Regions from separate parts of the Homo sapiens genome. Here region 2 is linked to region 1. A link means that fine-mapping ties the variant in region 1 to the expression of a gene that starts in the linked region. Tissue or cell type: whole blood. Region 1 holds a variant in brackets; the other region holds the start of a gene. All regions are shown on one strand. Distances are from middle to middle.

The links. PIP is the estimated chance that this variant, and not a neighbour inherited with it, causes the effect.
Region 2: it holds the start of CABLES2, and the variant in region 1 is fine-mapped to the expression of CABLES2 in whole blood (TOPMed, PIP above 0.99).

What each region holds. Positions count from the first base shown.
Region 1 is chr20:62,382,118-62,390,117 of GRCh38, reverse strand. It overlaps RPS21 (ribosomal protein S21), which reads right to left and starts at 3,015. Exons shown (of 6, transcript NM_001024.4): 1 at 2,982-3,015; 2 at 2,730-2,797; 3 at 2,444-2,507; 4 at 2,204-2,275; 5 at 1,754-1,809; 6 at 1,598-1,661. The coding sequence starts at 2,779. The coding sequence ends at 1,652. It overlaps CABLES2 (Cdk5 and Abl enzyme substrate 2), which reads left to right. Exons shown (of 10, transcript NM_031215.3): 10 at 1-1,484. RPS21-DT (RPS21 divergent transcript) reads left to right here and starts at 3,129. Exons shown (of 1, transcript NR_186459.1): 1 at 3,129-3,815. RefSeq lists enhancers at 2,166-2,857, 2,858-3,549, 3,828-3,877, 6,922-7,101 and silencers at 2,738-2,927, 3,358-3,477. The variant A/G (reference allele first, on the strand shown) is at 4,003.
Region 2 is chr20:62,404,093-62,412,092 of GRCh38, reverse strand. It overlaps CABLES2 (Cdk5 and Abl enzyme substrate 2), which reads left to right and starts at 4,808. Exons shown (of 10, transcript NM_031215.3): 1 at 4,808-5,178. The coding sequence starts at 4,817. RBBP8NL (RBBP8 N-terminal like) reads left to right here. Exons shown (of 14, transcript NM_080833.3): 14 at 1,097-1,856. The coding sequence ends at 1,215. It overlaps LOC105372709 (a long non-coding RNA gene), which reads left to right and starts at 5,199. Exons shown (of 2, transcript XR_936967.3): 1 at 5,199-7,203. RefSeq lists an enhancer at 1,350-1,409 and a silencer at 4,642-4,891.

The sequences.
Region 1 (8,000 bases):
ATTGTGATGGAGAAAAATAACATATTTATTGGGATTTGGTTTTTTGGGTCTTTTTTTTTTAAGGGAACAAAAAATGGTTAAATGAGGTCTGCTGAAGTTGACTTGAAAACACACTTGACCCTCAGGCAGGAGGGCACTGACCACACCCCACACAACCTCAAAGGGTCAGTGCGTCAGTGCCTTTTCTTCTGAGGCAGGAAACAGGTGCCATCTTGGCCACCTCGGCCAGGGCAGCCCACCATGCTAAAAGGACCCCAAATGGTGGTCGTTGTCCCTTCTGTGCAGGCCAGCAGGGCCCCATCTCTAGTTTTTCCACGTCTGTCTGAAGTTCTTGCAACAAATTCTGCATGGTCCAGCGCTCCAGCTAGCTGCCTCATCAAAAACACTGAATAACCAAGGACTGCTGAGTTTTTCTTCATGGGGGGTCAGCTGGTCTCAAAACTGGCCACTGCCTCAGCCACCAAGCTTTTTCCTACCACTACCTTATAAACCTGCCTGGCCCTGGAGGGGCTCTGGGACGACTTTGTCTCTAGCCCATTAATACAATACATCCTATGCTTTCTGTGCAGACTGGTGCTTCCGCAGAAAGGAGATGCCAATTCTGCTATCACAGAACTCCACCAGCAACTCCACCCGACCCCAGCAGTGGTGCAGGACAGCTGCCAGCACCCACCTGGCCCTCCTCCTTTTCCACAGCCACTCACTGGGGCCACCAAAACCCAGAGATGGCAGGTGTGTGGGACAGACTGGAGGATGAGGACAAACCAAAGCCTTTGTTCTTTCTTATTGTGGAGCGTCCCCTTCCATCAAGCAGCCTGCCCTCAAGCCAAGGATCATCCCCTGGAACCCAGTATGCACCCAGAGGGGACTCAGCTTCAAAGCTGCTCCACCATGCTGGGTCCCAGGCAGCTTTCCTCTGAAAAGCAACCTCTCCTGCCACCCAGATCCCATCTCAAGAGCTCGCCCATGTTACGAGCATGTAAAGGACTGACTTCCTAGTAACTGTTGCAGTTTACAACCTGCCCTCCAGGGACACGTCTCCATGGTTTTTCCTACACATGAATGCGAGAAATGGCTGATAAGCACAGTAATTTAAGATTGCGTATTCATGTAGTGAGATTTAGTCATTAACCAACCCGGTCTTTGTGATGTGTGAAGCCTTCCCTTCAGTTATGTCCCATTTTTATGATGCCAAAAGCTGCCACTGTGTGGTATTCGAGGATTATTGCAACAAAGCCAGTAGTTAAACCAAACTACAGTCTCAGCCTGTCATTCTCTAGAACACATCCAGGTGTCGGAGCTAAGGTGTTCAGCTCGGCTGTGACTATACAGAACCAGGCCTGGCGTTGCTTCCGCACCGGTAGCAGTTGTGGATGTCAGTGTGCATAAGCAAGTATCAGACCTCAGAATGTTTGAGTTATTTTGTCTTAGATATCTGTTTTTAAATGGATAATGTATTTGTCCTTTAAACCTCAGTTTTGCAATATGTTTCACAGCTTGTCTCCTTTCAACTAACTGGGTACCCTACCCCACCCGTCACCCACTGACAGCAAAACCTCAACCCTGGGCCTACAGACACAGAATGAACCTGCACAGGTAGGTTTTCATTATTTATTTATGACAAATATTCCACATCTGTGATTCTCTCCAGTCAAAAGTTCCTAGAACCAGGGGAAAAGGACAACGTTAAGACCACGCCTCTGGAGCAGTCCTAGTCCACTCACTCTGCCCAAATGTGAGCCCCCAACCTTACTTTGAGACGATGCCATCGGCCTTGGCCAATCGGAGAATGGAATCATCTGACTCACCCTTAAGAAAAAAAAAAAAGCACACTAAGAATATTTCCACTCCGGCTGCCTGAGATGGCAGAAGGTCAGCTGTGCCACCAGCCCACGTCTCTCCCCCGCTGAGCGAATGGAGACAGGCGCAGAAGGGGAGCCACCTCTCCCGGGGCAGCCTGCAGCCTGACTATGGTGGAGCGGGGTCGGGGGGGCACCTCCTAGTGAGAGGCAGAGTCTGCTGCCTGAGTGTCTTCTCAGAGCACCCCTCTTCCACCCTCAAGAAGCGGCAGGCGGCCAGCCCAGTCCAGCTGGCTCAAACTACTCTGCCAGCAGATCTACTCAGGCACCATCACACACTCCAATGCGCACGGTAAAGTCCACGATGTCCCGAAGTGATGAGCAAAGCCCAGGGAAACACTCACCATCCTACGAATGGCCCCGCAGATAGCATAAGTTTTAAACTGGCCATTAAACCTGCCTGTGACCTTGTCAACCTAGAAAGAGAAGAAGGGTCACAAACCACTCCCCCAGGTTTGGGAAACACCAATCCTCAAAGCCAGCCTCTGCCTGTACCTTCACCCCAGGGGCTCCTCCACAATGGGACAGCCTGCCTTTCCCGCACATATATCACAACCTTCCCGCCTCCCGGGCTCCCAGCTCACCTCGGCCACGTTCATCTGGATGGATGCGTGGTCCTTGGCACCGATGATGCGATTGCTAGCGGAGCTGTGGAGAAAGGGCGCAGTGAGCAGAGGGGACTTGGGCGGTAAGAATGAAAGAGGGGACGAGGGAGGTTGGGGGTATATGAATGGAAAAGAGTAACGTCGGGGGCAGGACAAGTTAGGGACGTGACGAGGTAAGGACGGGAGGGGTGTGGGGGAACAAGGGCAGGCGAGGGGACGTGGTGGTTAGGTAAGGACGGAAGAGAGGCATGTGGGGGGCGCTTACCATTTCCGCGGCACGTACAGGTCCACGAACTCGCCGGCGTCGTTCTGCATTTCGAGGCTGGGCTGCGCCTGGGGAGTCACCGCGCGGCGCCGTGAGTACGGCCGGAACCGTGCCCCGGCTCCCGGCGCAAACCGGCCCCTAGGGTCACGGCCCCAGCCGCACCCAGCACCCCGCACCCCGTCCCCCGCGTCCAAGCCCCCACTCCCGCCCCAGCCCCAGCCCTGAGCCCGAAGCCCGCGCCGCGCGCCACACCTGCTGCCACCACACCGCGCGCGAGAGAGAAAGGAAGCAGCTAGTCACCCGGCAGAGATATCGGCGGGCAAGGAGGGGCCTCGGCGAGCGCTTCCGGGTCACGCCACCACAGCGAGTCTGCGCGGTGCGTGCTTGCCGGCCGTCGCCGTGACGCACTTCCGCTTCCGGCAAGGAGGTTCTCGGACCCCAGCCTGCTGGCCCTGGGGCGCGGGGCGTCGTGGGGGTCGTTGTCGTTGAGGGTCGTTGCCGTGTGTGGCGTCTTAGCCTGGCCCCTGGGTTGTGCCCCACGGACGCAGTCGACCCCTCTGAGCGCCTCGGGAGCCCCGAATAGCAGCTGGGAGAAGGGGCGAGGACTGAGCCTCGCTGCCCGCTGCCGGCCGGGCTAGAGATACGGGCGTGCCCCCCATTGTGCGCCTCCCGCCCTCCGGTCCCCTCACCCTGCGGCCACCTGGGGCGTGGGGCGGTGCTCCTGCCCGTGCACGTAGCCGCTGCGAGCGGAGGCCTGCTCACCTGGTGCCTGCTACTCACTCCCCCGGGCCGGTGGGCGAAGGACACCCGCAGGAACTCGGCAGAGGAGAAATTCAGACGGCTCCCGAGGGTAGGAAAAGACCCCGGCCCACCGTGGAATCTGAAACACCCGACCACTCTGCCATCCCATGTTTCACCAGTCAGACCCCCAGGGCAGGGCAGGGGAAGCAGAATGCAAACTGGGGCACCGTTTCCCTGAAGCGTGTTGGCCGCGTTTGTCGTAGTGCTAGAGGTGCATACCCTTGGACCCCGAAAACCCATTCCTGGGAATTTGCTCCAAGGAAGTAAAGATGTTACAAAGATGGACCCACGAAGTATGGTCGTTGGTTATGGGTGGGGTCTTGAGGAAGGCCTTGTTAGTAGCCTGAACCCTGTTGCCAGGAGAAGCTCCAAACCGGTAGACGGAGGGAGCAGCGCGGCCTATGTTGGGGTCTTCTCTGGGCGGGGGACATGATCCTAGGATGTAGAACTAGCCTCAGAAAACTTAAGACTC[A/G]GTGGCCAGGTGCGGTGGCTCAGGCCTGTAATCCCAGCGCTTTGGGCGGAGGTGGGTGGATCACCTGAGGTCAGGAGTTCGAGACCCGTCTGGCCAACATGGTGAAACCCCATCTCTACTAAAAATACAAAAAATTAGCTGGGCGTGGTGGCAGGCGCCTGTAGTCCCAGCTACTCGGAAGGCTGAGGCAGGAGAATGGCGTGAACCCGGGAGGCGGAGCTTGTAGTGAGCTGAGATCCCGCCACTGCACTCCAGCCTGGGCGACAGAGCAAGACTGCGTCTCAAAAAAAAAAAGTTTTTTTATGTTTAATTTTTTGGGTACATAGTGGGTGTGTACATTTATGGGGCACATGAGATATTTTCATACCGGCATGCAGTGCGTAGTAATCACATGGGGTATATGGAGCATCCATCACCTCAAGCATTTATCCTTTGCGTTACAAATAATCCAATACTATACTCTTTTAGTCATTTTAAAATGTGCAATTAAATCATTATTGACTGTAGACACCCTGTTGTGCTATCAAACACTAGGTCTTATTCTTTCTGTCTTTTTATACCCATTAACCATCCCCATTTGCCCCCCTCCTCCCACTGTTCTACCCTTCCCAGCCTCTGGTAACCATCTTTCTACTGTCTGTCTCCACAAATTCAATTGTTTTAATTTTTAGCTCCCACAAATAATAGTGCTGTGATAAACATCGTAGCACATGTATCTCTTCCTTTCTTTCTTTTTTTTTTGAGACAAAGTCTCGCTCTGTCACCCAGGCTGGAGTGCAGTGGTGCGATCTCGGCTCACTGCAACTTCTGCCCCCAGAGTTCAAGTGATTCTCCTGCCTCAGCCTCCTCAGTAGCTGGGACTACAGGCATGAGCCACCACACCCGGCCAGGTATCTCTTTCATATACTGATTTCCTTTCTTTTGGGTATATGCCCAGCAGTGGGATTGCTTTATTTATGGCAGCTCTATTCTTAGTTTTTGTTTGTTTGTTTGTTTGTTTGTTTGTTTGTTTGAGACGGAGTCTTGCTCTGTCTCCCAGGCTGGAGTGCAGTGGTGCGGTCTTGGCTCACTGCAACCTCCACCTCCCAGGTTCAAGCGATTCTCCTGCCTCAGCCTCCAGAGTAGCTGGGATTACAGGGGTCTGCTACCACGCCTGGCTAATTTTTGTATTTTTAGTAGAGATGGGGTTTCACCATGTTGGCCAGGCTGGTCTTTAACTCCTGACCTCGTGATCTGCCCGCCTTGGCCTCCCAAAGTGCTGGGATTACAGGCGTGAGCCACTACACCTGGCCTACCAAACATTTTTTAAAGAACTAATACCAATCCTACTGAAACTATTCCAAAAAATAGAGGAGGAGGGAATGCTTCCAATCATTTTATGAGGCCGGTATTATCCTGATACCCAAATCAGACAAAGACACATCAAAAAAAGCAGATTAGAGGCCAGGAGTGATGGCTCATGCCTGTAACCCTAGCACTGTGGGAGGCTGAGGCAGGCAATTGCTTGACCTCAGGAGTCTGAGGCCAGCCAGCCTGGGCAACATGGTGAAACCCCTCTACAAAAAAATTTAAAAATTGGCCGGATGTAGTGGTGTGTGTCTGTAGTCTCAGATGCTCAGGAGGCCGAGGTGGGAGGATCAGTTGAGCCAGGAGGTGGAGGCTACAATGAGCCATGATCATGCCACAGAACTCCAGCCTGGGTGACAGGAGACCCAGAAAAAAAAAGAGAGAGAAAGGAAGGAAAGAAAGAAAGCCACAGACTGGCAGAAAATATTTTCAAAACCTGTATCTGATAAAAGACCTGTATCCAGGCTGGGTGCAGTGGCTCACTCCTGTAATCCCAGCACTTTGGGAAGCCAAGGCGGGTGGGTCACCTGAGGTCAGGAGTTGGAGACCAACCTGGCCAACATGGCAAAACCCTGTCTGTACTAAAAATACAAAAATTAGCTGGGCCTGATGGTGCACGCCTGTAATCCCAGCTACTGGAGAGGCTGAGGCAGGAGAATCACTTGAACCCGTTGGGCAGAGGTTGCAGTGAGCCGAGATCTCGCCACTGCACTCTAGCCCGGGCGACAGAGCGAGACTCCGTCTCAAAAAAAAAAAAAAAAAGGAAAGAAAACATATGTCCATTCGGAGACTGGTACTGAAATGTTCATCGAGGCTTTATGTGTCATAGCCAAAAATGGAAACAATCCACACATACACCAACAGGCAGATGGATAAATAATGGTACGTCCCCCTCGAAAGACAGCATACTGTGTGATTTTATTTGTATAAACTCTAGAAAATGCAAACCAATCAAAACTGACAGGAATCATGTTGGTGGTTGCCTGGGGTGGGGTGGTGAGCAAGTGGGATTACAGACGCACACAGGAAACGCAGGGAGTGATGGGAGGTATATGCTGTCTTGATGATGGGATTACAGACACACACAGGAAACGCGGGGAGTGATGGGAGGTATATGCTGTCTTGATGATGGCAATGGTTTCACAGTTGCATATAAAAGTCAAAACATTGGCCAGGTGCGGTGGCTCATGCCTGTAATCCCAGCACTTTGGGAGGCCAAGGCAGGTGGATCACAAGGTCAGGAGATCGAGATCATCCTGGCTAACATGGTGAAACCCCGTCTCTACTAAAAATACAAAAAATTAGCCGGGCATGGTGGCGGGCTCCTGTAGTCCCAGCTACTCAGGAGGCTGAGGCAGGAGAATGGCGTGAACCTGGGAGGCGGAGGTTTGCAGTGAGCTCAGATCACGCCACTGCACTCCAGCCTGGGCGACAGAGCAAGACTCTGTCTTAAAAAAAAAAGTCAAAACGTCAAATTGTATCCTTTAAAAAGTGGATTTTATTTTGCATCAATTATAGCTCAAAAATTTTACAGAGACTATAGGTGCTATTTGGCAAGACTCTAGGACGCACTCACTCACACAAAGCTTGAAGTCCGCTCTCTGGGCGCCGGGTCTCCAAGGCTGAGTTCTTCAAGGGAAACCTCTGCAACCTAAATCTCCTGAGCCCACGAAATCTGGATGAGCACTTCTTTAAGAAAACCTTCTGTACAAAATCGCAGACCCCCAAAACAGAGAGGGGAGTGTCCTCCCGAGGGAAGCCGTCTGGGTCGCTCCATCAGGAGAGCCTCCAGGGGCCTGCAGAGGAGGTGGCACTGCTTACCTGTCAGGAGGCTTGGGGCCACCAGCACTGTCCCCAGAAGCCACTAGGTGGTGTCTGAGAGCAGTGCTGGAGCAGGGACGGGGCTGGCTGAAGGGAGCTGAGCCCCTCCCCTCCATCCCTCCACCCGCTGTCTGTACAGTAAGTTGTTTACTGGGCCTCCAGTGGGTCTCGTGGGAAAGGGCCAGAGGGCAGGTGTGAAGGAGGGATTGAGGAGGCAGGAGGACCTAGCACTCGAAGACACCGTCGGCCTGAGCCTTTTTTGCAGAATCCTAGAGCAGCCCCCAGCGGCTCAGAGCAGTTGCTGCCTTTGCAGGGTGATCCCAGTCAGGGTCTCTGAGTGCCCCTGCATCCACCTGAGAGCACACTCACACCTGCTTCTGCCCCGCAATTGCTATATATAACTTTGACTGCCAGTGTCACCCCAGGTTTGTGCCTCTTTAGCAGTGTGACCTGGCACAAATTCCTTAGCTGCTTCTCCCTCTAGCTGTAAAGTAAAGCGACTGTCATGGAGCCACCCAGCCGTGCTGCAGTTGGCTGCTTTCAACAAACCAATGCCTGTCCAGTGCTCAGAAAAAGGTGTGGCACCCAGCATACTAACACTCACCATCATCACCATCATCATTGCTACTACCATCATTGTCACCATCACCACCATCGCCATCACTATCACTATCATCACCACCACCATCATCACCATCACCACTATCATCACCACCATCATCATCACTATCATTATTGTCATGATTGTCTATCACCATCATCACTGTCAGTATCATCGTCACCACCATTGTCATCACCATCATCATCATCTTCACCATCATCTTCACTAT
Region 2 (8,000 bases), 22 kb before region 1:
CTCCTCCCAGTAATGCCGGCAGGAGCCTCGGCCCTGGTCCGAGGGTATCGGGACAACTTTTCACTTCCTGCTCTGGGCTCAATGGCAGCTCCAGCTGGGGTCCAGGAGCCCATGAGAGACTTTGAACACCTAATTGTATGGCCCTGGTTTTTCTCCGGGCAAGGCCCGCAGGCAGCAGGCGGGGTGGTGCCGCCACTGTGTGCCATTGTTGCCGGCAGGTGGCCATGGCCTGCGTCTGCCCGGAGCGGCAGTAGAGACCAGCACGGCCCTTATTTGAGGCACTTCCTGCTGAGTGGGTGGAAATGGCCCCGGGGGGTGCAGTCTGTGAGCCAGCACACCCTTGTGCTCCTACCTGAGCCGGGACCAGGGACGCTGGCAGGGGCTCCTGAGAAACTGCTGTGGCGATCAGTGAGAGCAGGTCCCTGCCCAGCATGAGCACAGCTCAGCGCCAGAGCCAGCATCCTCGTGCCTAGTGCCCCAGAAGAGTGGGTGCAGCTGTGGCTGCCTGTGAGCCTTATGACCCTGCCCAGCAGGTAGGATCATCACTGTTTGGCTGGTGCAGAAATTGAGGCTGAGAGGGGAGAGGTCACTTGCCCAAGGTCACAGGTCTGGGACTTGTGTCAGGATTCAAACCTGACCCATTCAACTCAGAGCCTGAGCTTGCTGTGCCTCAGAGATGGCCTAAGCCCAGCATCTCGGCAGGATCCCCGTCCCCGGACCATCGCAGGAACCAGGCGCCCCTCCCATGTGGCCCTAGCCCGGGGGCAGGCCTGCTGAGGCCCGCAGCCAGTGTCAGGCCAGCCAGTATGGCCTGGCTCCCTCCAAGGCAGGAAGGGGGCCACTGGGGTCAGTGCCGTGTTCGGGGTCACACAATGGGGAGAGTGTCCACCCTCCACCCAATTCTCAGGGTTCACCCTCAGATCGGGCTACCCCTGCTCTGGGCACCGGTTTCTGTAGGAACAAGGGTGGCCAGCAAACTTCCCCAAGCACCCAGCTCCCCGTGCCCAGAGGAGACCCAGGAGGCCCTAGGTGAGAGCCAGTGTTGCCTCAAAGGAAGGCACACAGCTCCGGCCTGACCTCCGGCCACTTCCCATAGCCTCCAAAAAGCCATCCAGAGGGAGAAGGAAACTGACAGCCACTGAGGGGCCCGGGAGCCCAAGGGACGCCGAGGACCACAGTCCCTCCCCCAACAGCAGCCCCTGGGAGGAGACCTAGCCAGCCTGCACCAGGGTCCACAGCGAGCCCGGGGCAGCCCTCCACCTGCCCACCAGGGCCTGGAGAGGGCACACCATCCAACCAGCAGGCAGCCCTGCACAGAACCCTGGGAGAAGACCTAGCCAGCCTCAGCTGAACCCACAGTGAGCCCAGGGCAGCTCTCTGCCTGCTCACCACAGCCTGGAGAGGGCACACCACCCAACCAGCAGGCAACCCCGAAGAGCCGGTGACGGGCACATCCTGGCCCACTTCAAGAGGGGCTGGAGGACCGAGAGGGGTCTCAGGCTGGCGATTCACCCCGTCTCCACCCACCTGGGAAATGCTCTGCGGCCCCTCCCACAGCCCAGCACCTGCTCCCTGAGGGGTGTGGGGACTGGAGGCGGGATCACTCAGGCTCCAGCCCAGCCCTACCCCTGCTGTGCACTGCAGCCGTTCCCAGGCAGTGCCCACGCTCTGGGAGGCAACGGACCACTCGGACCCCCACCCCTGCCCGCCAAGCTCCAAGCACAATCTTGGACGCCCCCTCGTGGGCTGACAGCAAACAGATGTCTGGCAGTGAGGGTGGAGGGAGACAGTGGGCGGCAGCACCCTCGAAGACCGGGTCCCCTGAGTGACGGAGAATAAACACTTGAAGAACCGTGCATGTGTCTGGCAGGGCCCCAGGACACCACTGACTGTGCCAGGGACTGGAGGTCACCCCCTTGCGGGAGGGCAGAATAAAACCAGCTCCTCTGCAGAGTCTGCAGCGGGAAGGGACCAGGGCACCCTCGGGGAAGTGCCTGGCCACAGCGGCGGCCGTGTGCACCTGCCCCTCCTCACTAGTCCCTGGCCTGGCAGCCACAGGGCAGCTCGCCAGGACTCCACCGGGAGCACTCAAGGCTGTCTGCTCCTCGGGGGAGGATGAGTATCAGTCCCTCCCAGCTTCGTGGGAGGAGCTTAAGAAATAGATTCTTGGGCCCAACCCCGGATCCACTGAACCAGGACTTTAGAGGTGAGCCTGGAGTCTGTGTTTTAAGAAGCTCCCAGAGGTAATTCTCCTAAATGTGAAGTCTGAGAACTGCCCCTTACAGGGCAGAGACACTGGGCACTGACACCTCTGCTGGGCATCAGGGAGCGGTGGGCAAAGGAGCAATGGCACCAAGTCATGGCCAGTGTTGGGGGACGGGGAGGAGAGCAGGTGTCCCTGGGAGGTCAAGGCAGGTGGCACCTGCAACCCAAATTTGGGTTCTGAGGGATGAACAGGAGTGTGCCAAGTAGGCAAGGAGCTAGGATGTTCTGGGAAGTTTGCTGAGACCCCAACTCTAGAAAAATGGACAAGGATCAGGCAGAAAGGAAAGGTGGGGGCCACGGAGGGGTGCCAGGGCAAGGGGGAAACTAAGAAGTCAGCCCAAGGGCCAGGCCTGCAGTCAGGAGCATCCAGACAGAGCCCTGCGCTTGACACCTGCTCAGAGTTCAGGGTGAGAGCCAAAGAAAATAAGGAGCGAAACTCATGAGCAGGGCCCTCTGCAGCCAAAGCACCAAGGTGAGCTGGGCATTTAAAACCACGCATCACAGGGATGGCAGGACACGGGCCAACGACTGGGCTGGGTGAGGCCTGGGCCAGACTGGGGTGCGGGCCTGACTCAGGGGGCACTGCCTCCCACCTGCAGCCTGTGACATGTCTGCCTGTTGTCCTGAGAGGCCAGAGGGACTGAACTCCCAAGAGGGAAGTCCAGGTGTGTTAAAGGTTGCTTTAATTTCTCCAGAATCACACGAAACAAAAGCCGTGTGTTCCCTACACACTGCCCGCAGGCCAGGTTGGCTTTTGGCCACCCATCGACACCCTGGGGAGGGGAGAAGACTGGCAGCGGGAGCCTAGCAAGGGGGTTCACCAGACCCAGGAAGAGACCCCGTTCCTTCCTCAGCATTCCTCCTTGTCCCTCAAAGTCTAGCTTAGCGCCAGCAAAGAAGAACTGGCTAGGGGCCCCCCTACTGCACAGCCGATCCCCAGGACCCGGCGCTGCAGCCAGCACGGACAGCTGCCTCCTGCCTCCTGCGTCCTGCCCTCCACCCTCACTCGCCCCTTTCTGTTCTCATCTGACACCAGATTCTCTGCAAGCTGCTGGTGTATGGCCCACCCTCCCCTGTCAGGCCCCTCCTCCTGGTGATAGCCAGCAGGGATGGAGGGCCCACTGTGTGCCTGCCCCAGCCTCAGCACCCTACAGCGCTGGACACACTCACTCCCCGCTCACGGGAGCCCCCAGGCACACAAGTCAGCACCCCATTCTGTGGATCCAGAATCCGCAGCCACCCCTCTGCTATGCCACCCAGCCCCGCGTTCTCCTAGACAGGACAGCTGCCCACCTTCCCCTAGGCCTGGCAGAGGCCTTGGAGGCCAACTTGGAAGGGCGGAGGGAAAGGAAATGGAGGTGCTGCATGCTGCGTGAGCCCCAATGGTGGCCCGTGAAGGCCCACAGGAGGGAGCAGGCAGGCGGGAGGTGGGTAGGGGCCTGAAGGGCAGGGGCCCATGCTAGGGGTGGTGATGAAGACCCTGTCTTGCCCACTCGCCCACTGCCTTGTTGGCCATCATGCTGCCTCCCCACACACCAGGTGCTCCTAGGGCCAGCGCTGTGCCTGTCGGTCCCACCGGGTCCCCAGCACCCAGCACAGGAGAGGCTGGGCGCATGCGGGCAGGTGCGAGGTACTGCAGCGCATTCGCGGACTGACCACTGCATGTGCCTGGCCTCCGGCCACAGCCCGACCCCCTCACTGAGCCAGTTTCATCCTGACAGTACCCTGAGGCTGAAATCATTGTCCCCTCTTTAAAGATACGTAAACCCATGAAAGAAAGCTGGACAGAGCAGGCAGGTGACACAGAGGTGGGTGCAAGGTCCTGAGTCCCTCCACAAAGATACAGCGGGTTCCCCTCCAGACTGCAGACAGGCTCCCGGGCTCCAGAGGCAGGCCCTGACCATCCCGGTGCCACGGGCTCACAGGTTCTGAAGTCAGGGGCACCCAGGCACAGAGAGGAAACAGGCCTGGGCACAAGGCAGGCTCAAGGTCACTTTGCTACTGCAGGAAGTGCAGGACTCTGCCTGGGGCTTTGATCCCAAGCAGGTGCCTTCTCCACTCAGACCCTCGTTCCCTTCTGTCAATGAAGGAGGCCAGATGGCACGCGGGCCCTTCCGGGAAGCGGTGGGGCTCCTCCAGGGGCCGCCCTGCGCCCGCTGAAGCGCCGCCCAGACACACCTCCGGACAGGGAAGTGTGCTGGGGCCTCACCCACGCCGCCCTGGGTCCGGAGCCTTAAAATGTGCGCTCGATGGAGGCCATCCGCGAAGGCCGCCATACAGCAAAGGGAACAGAAAGCGAGAGCCCCGCGGCCGCAGGTCCCAAGACGGGGACTCGAACCGGCGGGGAGGCGCGCAGCTCCCGACTCCCTGCTGCTGCGTCCGACCGCCTCTAGGACCCAGGGGAGCGCCCTGAGCGCGGCACCTCGCTGGCCAATGGGAGAGCGCGACGGCGATACATTTGCATGTGGGCGCGCCGCGGCCAATGGGCGGCGGGCGCGCGGGCGCGCGGGCAGGGGGTGGGGCGCTTCGCGGCGGCGGGCGCAGTCTGAGGATGGCCGCGGCCGCGGCCGGTGGAGCCCCGGGCCCGGCCCCCGGCCCCGCCGGGCCCCCGCCACCCGCCGCGCCGACCTCGGCCGCTCGGGCCCCGCCGCAGGCGCTGCGGAGGCGCGGGGACTCGCGGCGCCGCCAGGCCGCGCTTTTCTTCCTCAACAACATCTCCCTGGACGGGCGGCCCCCGAGCCTGGGCCCGGGCGGAGAGAAGCCCCCGCCGCCGCCCGCCGAGGCCCGCGAACCGCCAGCGCCGCCGCCGCCGGAGCCCCCCACCGGGCTGCCCGCCAGGACCCCCGCGCCCCAGGGCCTGCTCAGCCCCACGCAGGTGCCCACCGGCCTCGGCCTGGATGGGCAGCGCCAGAGGTGAGTGGGGGCCCGGCCAGGTCAGCCCAGGACGCGGGGTACAGGGACGGGGACGGGGGCCGGATCAGCCCAGGACTAGGGGTCAGGATTACTTGGGGCCTCATCAGCCCAGGACAAGGGGGTCAGGTGACCTGGGGCCTTGTCAGCCCTGGACAGAGGCCAGGACAAAGGGGTTGGGTTCACCTGGGGCCTTGTCAGCCCTGGACAGAGGTTCAGGTGACCTGAGCCCCTGTCAACCCAGGACACAGGGGTCAGGGTCAGTCTGGGCCCTCATCAGCCCAGGACACAGGGGTTGGGTTCACCTGGGACCTTGTCAGTCCTGGATACAGAACTGGGGGTTCCTGGGCTGGCTGAGGGTTTCCTCAGGCCCTGTCACCCCCCACACATAGGGTTCATTGTCCCCTGAATTCTCCCAGCCCCTGAATACGGGGTCTGGATCTCCACGTTGTCAGTGCTCTGAAATGGGTTTTAGGGTTCAGCCCTTATTACCCCTGAGACCCCCAGCCCTGTGGGTTCTGGACATGCCCCCACCCCCATCCACTGGTACCAGTGCCCGGGACACAGGGACACATGGACAGCCCTGTGCATCTCTTCGCATTCTTTGAACCGGGCCACACCGTCCATGCCCACCTCCTCAGACCCAGCATGTGGGCCGGGGTCCTCCTGGCACTGTCACTGACACCTGTTCCCAGAGGCCCCTGCACAGCCACATCTCCCATCCCACAGCCACTGGTCTCTGGCACCCCTCCTCTCCCTGTCACTTCCCTGCTGAGCCCCGCCCTTCCCCACATCACTCTCAGCTCGGTATCTTTGGGTCTGTCACACCCTGGGTCTCCACTGCTCCCCCTGCCTTGATTCCATTTCTGGGAACCACCTCAGCCCATCCCAGGGCAACCCCAACCATGAGCCCTGCCTGTCCAGCGTGTGCCCCCTGCCCAGATGGCCCCTGGCTGCCCGACACCCTGTGTCCTTCTCCCAGAGACCACAGGACCTGGGTGACCCTGCCTCCCACAGCCCTCACCTCCAGGAGTGACTGTGGGCTCTGGGCCCAGGACTGGCTGCTTGTTGCGGTTCCTTCTCAAAGGGAGCCACTGTCCACAGGTCCAAGTGCCTGCTGGGCGGCTGTTCCCAGAGGCAGCCCCTGCAGGTGTGCAGCAAAGGGGCCGACACAGAGCTCTTGGGTCAAGGCTGGCACGTGCTCCTTGCTTACCTGGAGGTCATCAGAGTTGCCCCACGCCCCTGGCCTTCGGGCAGGTGGAGGCATTGGGTTCCTCTAAGGTCTTTGGTTGGGGAAGTTTGGGCCCAGAACACAGCACTCTGTCCTCAAAGACTATGACGTCACATGCAGGTTGCGTCACACGCAGGTCGCGGTGCACTCCATCCTTGGAAGTGTTCCTGGCCGTAGCCAGGCTGAGGGTGCCTGCAGACCCAGGCCTGTCCACAAGATGTCCCCCCACGGACATGCCTGGCCGCTGCTCCAGGGAGGGTCAGAGGGATGATTGGGGCAGAGGGATGGATTTGCCCAAATGTGGCAGCCAGGCCCCATGCATTTGGCATGGCCAGCTCCTTCAGGAAGGCGGGAGAGATGGAACAAGGTGGTGACTCTCCAGGGCAGAGCGGCAAGGCCCTAAGGTGTGGACTCCAGGGGAAGCGGGCTCACCCCAACGGGCCGAGCTCCGCAGGTGTGGTGGGCTTTTCCCTAACCCCGGGCCCTGTTGTTTGACATGGAAACAGCTTTCTCCCTCAGTCCTGCATGTTGAGTGTCCAGAACCGGATGGTGACACCAGGCAGACTGGGTGCTGTCATAGGCCCTCCTTCCACAGAGTTCATGCACCCCTGTGTGCACCAGGCCTGGCGTGGAGTGGAGCCCACTTGAGTGGAGGGAGGCAGAGCGTGGCGACGCGCAGGGAAGTGCCTGTGACTGAGAAGGCACCCCCTGCAGGCCCAGAGCCTCCATGGTGACAGTTCTGAGCGCAGCATGCTGCCCACGTGCAGCACATCCCTGCCCTGTGGGATTGTTAGAAGGTGCGCTGTGGCCGGCATCCCTGGGACAGGATGGGACGTGGCATGGGCTGGGTGCCTGCAGTCCTCCTGCCGTACCCACCATGGGCCCAAGCGCCACCACCCCTTGCCTTGCCCAGGGCTGTCTCCTCCCTTCCCTCCTCCTTGGCCCCCATGTCCCTGTTCAGGTCTTTCCTGAACCCCACTCTGTTCCTGGAGGGGGAGGCGTCCCTCCTGGGGCTCTGCTGCCAAGTTCGTGGTGCTGACCTTGTTTCTGAGGGCCATGGCCCCTCCCTGATAGGTAGACCCCAGCGTGAGGACGTCCATTTCACCCTGCGTTCCCTGGGCCTGGCTGCTGATCGAGGGAAGGGTGGCTGCCCCGGCAAAAGGGGCTGCTAGCTCCTGGCTTGAGAGTTCTAGGATGAGTTGGTTTCAGGAAATGGAGAGAATTCTGAAAGTCCTGAAGGCAGCCCTGATGTTGGTCTTGTGAGTGTGGTGGTTTGACCTGGGCTCTGGGAACAGACTTGGCTTGGAATCCCAGCTGCACTGTTCAGTACCTCTGTGACCTTGAGCAGGTGACATGGCCTCTCTGAGCCTCAATCTCCTCTGAGAAGCGGGTTCACACTAAGCACTAAGCATGGCCTCCCTGAGGTCAGAGGTCAGATGCGTGCCCAGGGCTTGGTGAGGTATGTGGCAGGAGTCAGTGTGAGATGAGCAGAGCCTCTTTTTTTTTGAGACAGGGTCTCTCTCTGTCTCCCAGGCAGGAGTGCAGTGGCGCAATCACAGCTCACTGCAGCCTCTACCTCCTGGGCTCGAGTTAT